Regions from separate parts of the Homo sapiens genome. Here region 1 is linked to region 2. The links come from fine-mapping of genetic effects on gene expression. A gene starts in region 2. The other region holds a variant in brackets. All regions are shown on one strand. Distances are between the middles of the regions.

Region 1 (4,391 bases), 240 kb before region 2:
CTCTGGCTGTGAAGCTACCCCTCCACTGCCACTTTTACCAAATTCACCAGTGATGTTCATGTTCCCAACAATGGGCTGTTTTTCATCCTTGACTCACACAAACACTCAGGAGCCTTAGTCAAAATTGAATGCTTTCTTCCTGACAGGTGCTCTTCTCTGGGCTTTTGTGACACTATACCTTTTTGGGTTTGTTTTCTGCTTCTTTGATTTCTCCTCCCCAGCTTACTTCTCAAGTTCATTTTCCTCTGCCAGTCCTCTAAAGAGGGGTTTCCTCAAAGCGTGATCTCAGGCCATCCTCTTTCTCTCTCTCTATGTCTACCACTTTCTCCTTAGGAAATTGCACACTTTGTTCATGGCTCCAACACTGATCTTCTTTTGATTCTTCATCTTCTCTATCTAATTGCCTACTTGTCTCCCAGGCATGTTTAACTCAAAATATCCAAAACAGACATCCTGATTTTTTTTTCTCCAAATTTATTCCTCATTAAGTCTTCCTCACCTACCTAGATATACAAGCAGAAACTGGAAAGTCATTCTTGTTTTCTCCCTCTTCCTTACTTCTGACATTTAAAATATCAGCAAGGCTTCTTACTCTACCTCCAGAATGTGTCTTGAATCTATCCATTTTCTCCATCATCACTGCCACTGCCTTAGTGTATGAATCACTATTATCTCTTGCCTTGACTATTGTAACAATCTCCAAACTGATTTCCCTGCTTTTTCTCTGGGCTCCCCAAATCAGTTCTCCATACGAGTGATCTTTTATTTCTTTTCTTCTCTATCTCTTTTTTTTTTTTTTTTGAGACAGTCTCACTTTGTCACCCAGGCTGCAGTGCAGTGTTGTGATCTCAGCTCACTGCAGCTTCCACCTCCTGGGTTCAAGTGATTCTCCTGCCTCAGCCTCCCGGGCAACTGGGATTACAGGTGCATGTCACCATGCCCAGCAATTTTTTGTTTTTGTTTTTGTATTTTTAGTACAGACAGGGTTTCACCATGTTAGCTAGATTGGTCTTGAACTCCTGACCTCAAGTGATCCACCCACCTCAGTCTCCCAAAGTGCTGGGATTATAGGCATGAGTCATCGCTCCCAGCCACAAGTGATATTTCAAAAACAGAAAATCAAATTATTCTCTCTTTTAATGAAAATACTTTTCATTGCCCCTAAAACAAAATCCAAACTTGTTACCATGTTTTCTGCACCAGACTTGCTTTTCCCACTAGGGCCCCTTGTTAATTCCCTGGATGCTACCACTTCTGGGTACTAGTCTCCTGCTAGGACATGGAGCTCTAGAGGTGCCAAAGCACATCTCTCTCCCACTTTTGTACATGTTGCTTCTGGTCAGAAGAGTGCCAAATGAGTGGAATCTATCCCTGAACATCAAAGAGCTTTGAGTGAAATTATTTTCCAAGTTTCACTTATAGCCTCCTCCTTTCTATAGGATTTGGCCACAGGTTCACGGAGGAAGGGAATTTGGGGAGCCGAGGAATGAGCGGGGCAGGAAGCACATACGAACGTCCTGCACCAGGCTGCACTAAGAACCTTCCCTCTGTTTGATGGCTAAGGCCTTGCTTTGTGAGCAAGCTTGCTGTCCTAAAACCTTCCTCCCGGAAGGATTCTCAGTCTGTTAAGAAAATAGAGGCCACCCAAACCTTTGTCAAGATATGTTTAGAAATATTTGAATAATTTAGCTTTAACCTATTCCCCACCACCACTAC[C/A]ACCTACTTTTCTTTAATTCTCTAATCACCACTATTCCCCCCTAGAATATCTGCATGCATTCTTGAGGTACATTGTCCTTTCTAATGTAGGGCTTATTCAGTAGGGTGCTTTTTAAATATATTTTTAAAAATCCTAAAATTCTGTTCTTTTTTGAGATGCTTTGATAAGAGTAAAACTACCTGCTTTCTGGCCTCTGTGATAGCAGCAGTTCTCTGAGATTCATTAAGTTGCTTGCTGGTAGCTGAGAACTTGAAATGCACATCAGTTAATTCAACCTTGTGAAAGAATGTATCAGGAGACAAAATCAACAATGCAGATAATTCAAACATTCTACCAGCCCACACATCATTTTTCCTAACTTATTTCTCCTCAGAGCTGCCAGGCTAAAACTCTGTGCAACATAGATAATAAACAAATTCAAATCATCATTTTTCTATTCATGGCCTGTTCCTGAATTTGGTCATATGACTGTTTATGAGGGAGTTCTCAACTGTGGAGGGAGTATTTTTTTACCCTGTTTTCAGTAACTGTTCTATTTTTCTCGATTCTGAATAGGATTACTCATAGCATAGATGCTTCTTGGAATTGGAATTTTTTTCTCAAGGCTTTAATCATTTCTGATTTTCCTCCCGTGAACTGTAGGACAGCACATGTGGCTTTCCTGCAATGGGATCGTCCTTCAAGAGGACCTCACAGGCTCTCCACCCGGACTGTGACGTAAGCAGCTGCAGCAGCCTTGGATGTTTCTGGATAGCCAGCCCCATGAGAACAGCTTTAAAATAGGAGACTGGCATTGTGATGAAGTGTGGACTTCGCTGTCATATAGACCTGGATTTAAATCCTGGCTTCAGTGTTTATGGATGACGTTGGACAAGTCATTTAACCTCCTTAAGTCTCAGAGTTCTCATTACGGAAATGGAGCTCTTAATAGTACCTACCCCCTAGTGTGGTTGTGAGGGTTGAGATCATCTATGTTCAAAGTGCTTATTATACAGAGACGGGGACATGTAAGTGCTACATAAATGTTAGCTTTTATTAGTCACTGGAGTGGAGGAGAGAGGACTGTTGCCTCCTTGTCAATGTCCCCATCCTGGGAAGCCTGCCTGTGTGCACCAAGGCCCATCTGACCCATATATCAGAAAAGGTGCCCTTCTAGGGAGCGACACCCCCCACCAAGCCCCCCAGTCGCTGTCCATGCTTTCCTCTAGGTTCAAAATGCAGCTGCATCTGTGCAGAAACCAGGTGTTGCCTGTGAGTTCTGCCTCGCTGGCCAGAGGTGGAAGGAAGGAGGAAAGGAGAGGGGCCTCCATACTTCCAGAGCCCCACTGGGGGTTACCTTCGCTTGCCCCCACTCTTTTTGTCTTGCTCTGAGGATGCCAGGACTTTAAGGACATTGTCAGCGAGCACGTAAGTTCACCCCTGCAAGGTCAAAGGCAGGACAGAAAGAAGACCCAAAGGTCCCAGTTAGTCAAGGAAAAACAATCACAAGAATAAAACATTTTTAAAGATTAAAATAATAGCTGCCATCTGTTGAGCAGTTGCTATGTGTTAGGACTTGTGTGAAACATGTTCACACAGTCTCTCTGCTTCCTCACAATACTGTGAAGTAGGTATTGTGCTTAATTGAACATAGGTTCATTTAAGAAAACAAATGTAAATATCATTCTAATCCTTGATTTAATTACCTCAAATTCAGGCAGAAGCAGATCAGCCCACCCTAATGGGCAGTGTACCAGGAGCTTCGTGTGTAGGGACAACTTTCACCTTCAAAATGCCCTGCGGGCTGCCTCAGCTTCTTTTCCACCAGCCCCTGGGCTCCCAGCTGTCTCAAGAGGCAGTGTTTTGCTGGGTAGTTACAGTGAAAGACCGGATTGTCCTGCTCATGTTACCCCCGTCTCCCTATTTACTATAATCAGGAAGTCATGTTTTTCATTTAGGATAAGGCAATTACTCTTCTGTTGACTGAAGTCCAGCAAAAAGCAAACTGAATCTCATTTCCACATTAATGCAATGGGGGCAGGATGGAGAGGCAGCCTGATTTCCTGGTGTCTCAGCCTCTCTCTTCTATATCTGTATCTCCTCTGATGGAAGCATCTGTCGTAATAGCAACAACCAAGATAGCATTGAGAGAGTAAACTATTGTAGTCCCTTTCCCTCATCTTGGGAAATGATGAATAAAAGTCACCATCTGCTCCCCTGAGCCTTGCTGTGGTGCGACCTAACTTTACACGCAAGTACAACGAATGACCTGCCCCATCCTAAGAAGCAGTAGAATAATATGAAAAAGACTTTTTTTTCTGCTCTGCCTGGGTAGACAAGCAACTCTTTGCCAAGGGAAAGGAATAAGACATATCATGTCTCTTTAATGATTGAAGATCCAGGTTAACTGTGGTAGAATTAAGCAAAGAGCAAACAAATGTTCTGAATGTGTTTTCTTTTCTCTCAGAGAAAGAATCTCAGTCATCTGGACTGCTTTGTGCTATATGAAAATCTCTGAGAACCTTCAAGAGCCCAAAAACAGTTCTCCTCCATGCTGTATGCCATGGTCAGTGGTTAAAGAGAACATTTTGTTCCACTCCTCCAGCTCTGCCTTAGAAACCCAAGCCCTGCACTCCAAGGCTCCTGGCATCGTACACCAGCACCAGCAATTTTCTGCCAAAAGCATCAGCCAAAA
Region 2 (4,391 bases):
CATTTAGTGCTACAAATTTCCCTCTAAACGCTGCTTTAGCTGTGTCCCAGAGATTCTGGTATGTTGCATATTTGTTCTCATTGGTTTCAAAGAACTTATTTATTTCTGCCTTAATTTCGTTATTTACCCAGTAGTTATTCAGGAGCAGGTGGCTCAGTTTCCATGTAGTTATGTGGTTTTGAGTGAGTTTCTTAATCCTGAGTTCTAATTTGATTGTACTGTGGTCTGAGAGACTGTTTGTTATGATTTTCATTCTTTTGCATTTGCTGAGGAATGTTTTTACTTCCAATTATGTGGTCAATTTTAGAATAAGTGTGATGTGGTGCTGAAAAGAATGTATATTCTGTTGATTTGGGGTGGAGAGTTCTGTAGATGTCTATTAGATCTGCTCGGTCCAGAGCTGAGTTCAAGTCCTGAATATCCTTGTTAATTTTCTGTCTCGTTGATCTGTCTAATATTGACAGTGGGGTGTTAACGTCTCCCGCTATTATTGTGTGGGAGTCTAAGTCTCTTCGTAGGTCTCTAAGAACTTACTTTATGAACCTGGGTGCTCCTGTATTGGGTGCATATATATATTTAGGATAGTTAGCTCTTCTTGTTGCAGTGATCCCTTTACCATTATATAATGTCCTTCTTTGTCTTTTCTGATCTTTGTTGGTTTAAAGTCTGTTTTATCAGAGACTAGGATTGCAACCCCATACAGGGCCAGTTTCATGGGCATATGACCTGTGCTGTCACACAGGGCCAGGCACTTAGAAGGACCCCACACGTGATTTAATGCTCCATTGACACCATTTTGCAATTCTGAATAATTTTTTAACAAAAGCTCCTGCATTTTCATTTTGCACTGGGTGGGGCAAATTATATAACCAGCCCTGGCTTTACAGTTCATTTGGATTTTTGCTGCTTCTAGAAAAACAAGTGAAATTTACCTTTAGTTAGTTACCAGCCCAGGACTGGGCATTTGCAGAACTGCCGCGACCTGCTTCCCTGCTAGACTGCTCCCTCTCTTTAACATCCATCAGCTGGACTCACCAACTCCGGAAAACCTGCATGGGTCTATAGGGAGACCCCTGCTGAGCTGAATTTGACTTCACAGTATTACCATCCGTCACAACCTCGTGTTGTTATGGGTGTGGCAAGACTTCTGTTATGCCTGATTCCAGCCAGTTATATATAAAAGATCTCCTGCTCCAACCTGGCCCTACGTGGTGGGTAGCCTGGGCCCTGAGAATGTTTTCTTCTACAATGGACAGGCCAAAGGAGGACAGAGGGGGTTACAAAAAGATAATATCCATCAGAGGCAAAGAGTACTCAAAAGTGAACTTCTACCATTTCCACTGGATATTGATTAACTTCCCTGAGCCTCAGTTTCCTCATTCGTTTATGAGAGTAGCCCAGGAGGCATCTACCCCTCCCAACCCGCCAGGATTGCTGAGAGGACAGAGTACGCGTGCAAGGTTTTGCAATGTGCCAGAGCTTAGTAAGTGTTAGCACTTATGAAAACAGCGTTTATATATCATTTGGGTCATGGGACTCTTGGAAAACCTGATGATACCTATGGTTTCTTCCTGCCTCCGCCCCACCCCCACCTTCCAGCCTCCAAAAATGTCACCTCCAAAAAACAAATAAGGCAGGGCGCGGTGGCTCACGCCTGTAATCCCAGCACTTTGGGAGGCCGAGGCGGGCGGATCACAAGGTCAGGAGATCTAGACTATCCTGGCTAACACGGTGAAACCCCGTCTCTACTAAAAATATAAAAAATTAGCCGGGGCCGGGCGCGGTGGCTCACGCCTGTAATCCCAGCACTTTGGGAGGCCGAGGCGGGTGGATCACGAGGTCAGGAGATCGAGACCATCCTGGCTAACACGGTGAAACCCCGTCTCTACTAAAAATACAAAAAATTAGCCGGGCGTGATGGCGGGCGCCTGTAGTCCCAGCTACTCGGGAGGCTGAGGCAGGAGAATGGCGTGAACCCGGGAAGCGGAGCTTGCAGTGAGCCGAGATCGCGCCACTGCACTCCAGCCTGGGCGACAGAGCGAGACTCCGTCTCAAAAAAAAAAAAAAAAAAAAAAAAAAAAAAATTAGCCGGGCGTGGTGGCGGGTGCCTGCAGTCCCAGCTGCTCTGGAGGCTGAGGCAGGAGAATGGCGTGAACCCGGGAGGCGGAGCTTGCAGTGAGCCTAGATGGCGCCACTGCACTCCAGCCTGGGCGACAGAGCGAGACTCTGTCTCAAAAACAAACAAACAAACAAAAAACAAATAAGACTCGCCGACCCATGCCATAGATTGACGACCCTTGAAGGTGGCTCGTGTACCCAGGTTAAGCCACGTGTCTCTAAAATGTTCATTTAGGCGGCGCTGTGTTACCTGCGGGAATCCCCGACCTGCGGCTCCTGACCACGGGCCACCCCGCCCAGACCCTGCAGGCGGGCTCTCCACGAGGGTCTGCGCAGCCCCGCGGGGGTCCTGACAGGCCGAGCGACTGCAGTAGGAGGGGGCGGGCCCGGCTCTCGGTCCGCCCCCACGCCGGGCTCGGGGTGGGGGCTCGGGGCCTATTACGGGATGGAAGCTCCGGGTGTCGCGGGGGCGGGAGGAATTAAGGGAGGGAGAGAGGCGCGCGGGTGAAAGGCGCATTGATGCAGCCTGCGGCGGCCTCGGAGCGCGGCGGAGCCAGACGCTGACCACGTTCCTCTCCTCGGTCTCCTCCGCCTCCAGCTCCGCGCTGCCCGGCAGCCGGGAGCCATGCGACCCCAGGGCCCCGCCGCCTCCCCGCAGCGGCTCCGCGGCCTCCTGCTGCTCCTGCTGCTGCAGCTGCCCGCGCCGTCGAGCGCCTCTGAGATCCCCAAGGGGAAGCAAAAGGCGCAGCTCCGGCAGAGGGAGGTGGTGGACCTGGTGAGTCCGAGGGAGCCGAGCCGGGACCGCCGCGCTGGTGGAGGGGACCTGGCCGCGCGCCCCACGGGCAGGGCGTCAGTCTGGCTGTTGGGGGTGTCTGTCTGTACAGCTGTGTGTCGTGTGTCTTGCTGCGCCGGGGTGTCATGCTTTTTATTTACAGGTGAAGAAGGACCTGGTTATGCGTGCAGTGAGTCTTGGAACTCAGAGGGGAGACCAAAATGGGAGGCCATCGTGGAGCGGACATGCGATATGGGCCCGGTGGGTCTCCCCGAAGTACAGGGAGTCCCCCAATAATTTCTGGCCCCAGGGGGACCCCTTGGGAAGGGTGGGAGGGATAGGGCGGCAGTGAGAGTAGGATGAGGAGCTTGGGTACGTCCGAAGTGGACCTGGGAAAAACCCTGGCCTCGCTGATCACATGGACCTGGGCCTGGGCCAGGGCGGTGCAACGTGTCCTTTGTTGGGGCTGGTGGCCACGTCTGCCTGCGAGAGAGAATAACAACCCCCACAAAGCATCCGTCCAACTCTTTGTAACTTGAAGACTATGAGTCACGTTGGGTCATCTTCCTAGGGAGTATGGGCTGCAATTTACTTTGTTGGACAACCACAGCTGGGGCTAGGAATGGTTCAGAAGGTTTAAGGCCGGAAAGGGAAATGAAGGGGCCCGGCGCTAACCCTCTAAGGACCTGTTTTGCTTCTGTTTAAACCAAATGGGCAGTCTGTCATTACACACACCCTGGGTCTTCATATGTGGCCGCCAGGTAGGAGCATCACAGTCAAGCTACGGGAGAAAACAGTTTCCAGGAAACTGGAAATGAACGGCCCGAGTGCTTTCCAGGGGCTCATCTGTGGGAAGGTATGTTTGCTTAAAATCCTTCCCTCTAAAAATCAACAAACCCAGTGGAGGGCGGAGAGGTTCTCTGGCCTGTGGTATGAGGGAGCCTTTCAGAGCTACCGTAGTCCTTGGCATATTATAAACTTCAGTCTCACTTGCAGACAAACATGATTTACAGGCATTGCAAGACATAAGTTGGGGCATTTTTTTTTAATTAAAAAGAAAGTTTTGAATTTGTTAAGCTGCCATTTTAAACTGAGCTAATATACCAAGTTCCCTGGCAGCTAGTTCTGTATTGGATTCAAAAGTGCTGGGAAAAAAATTCCCGCCATTTCACACAGCACTTTTTGGTGGTAGGCTGTGTAATTTTGATCCACAAAAGGGGACTATGTGTTCAGGCAACAGTTCTATTTTAAGTGTCCAAATTATTAAAACTGTGCCAAATGAGTATGGTTCATGTGTAGTTTGCATTTTATGAGTCTGTAGTTATGATACACAAAATACCCATTTTTCCTGTGAAGCTTGCTATTTTCCCCCCTTCAAGGATTTACAGTACCTGTGGTTTCCCACAACTCTAGCCAGACTTGGAAAAGATTTTGCAGTCAGGCTCAGGTGCATCCTGTAGGTTGGATTTGGTTTTGCTGACAGAAGAAGTCCACAGTCATT

Direction of the effects. Positions count from the first base shown, and alleles are read on the strand shown. Sizes are in standard deviations (SD) of each study's normalised expression.
With allele C in place of A in region 1, the expression in monocytes after LPS of the gene that starts at base 2,625 in region 2 is lower (moderate effect, 0.51 SD a copy in Fairfax 2014).

What was found. PIP is the estimated chance that this variant, and not a neighbour inherited with it, causes the effect.
Region 1: its variant is the best candidate, but not a certain one, in a credible set for the expression of CTHRC1 in monocytes after LPS (Fairfax 2014, PIP 0.59).

Annotation. Positions count from the first base shown.
Region 1 is chr8:103,130,234-103,134,624 of GRCh38, forward strand. It overlaps LINC01181 (long intergenic non-protein coding RNA 1181), which reads left to right. Exons shown (of 6, transcript NR_145429.1): 2 at 2,360-3,124; 3 at 4,164-4,391. BAALC-AS2 (BAALC antisense RNA 2) reads right to left here. Exons shown (of 2, transcript NR_027071.1): 2 at 2,730-3,136. Among named protein-coding and RNA genes, the nearest start is that of BAALC, 8.3 kb to the right of the region's middle. The variant C/A (reference allele first, on the strand shown) is at 1,717.
Region 2 is chr8:103,368,914-103,373,304 of GRCh38, forward strand. It overlaps CTHRC1 (collagen triple helix repeat containing 1), which reads left to right and starts at 2,625. Exons shown (of 4, transcript NM_138455.4): 1 at 2,625-2,893. The coding sequence starts at 2,744. RefSeq lists enhancers at 2,285-3,079, 3,080-3,873, 4,371-4,391 and a silencer at 2,509-2,628.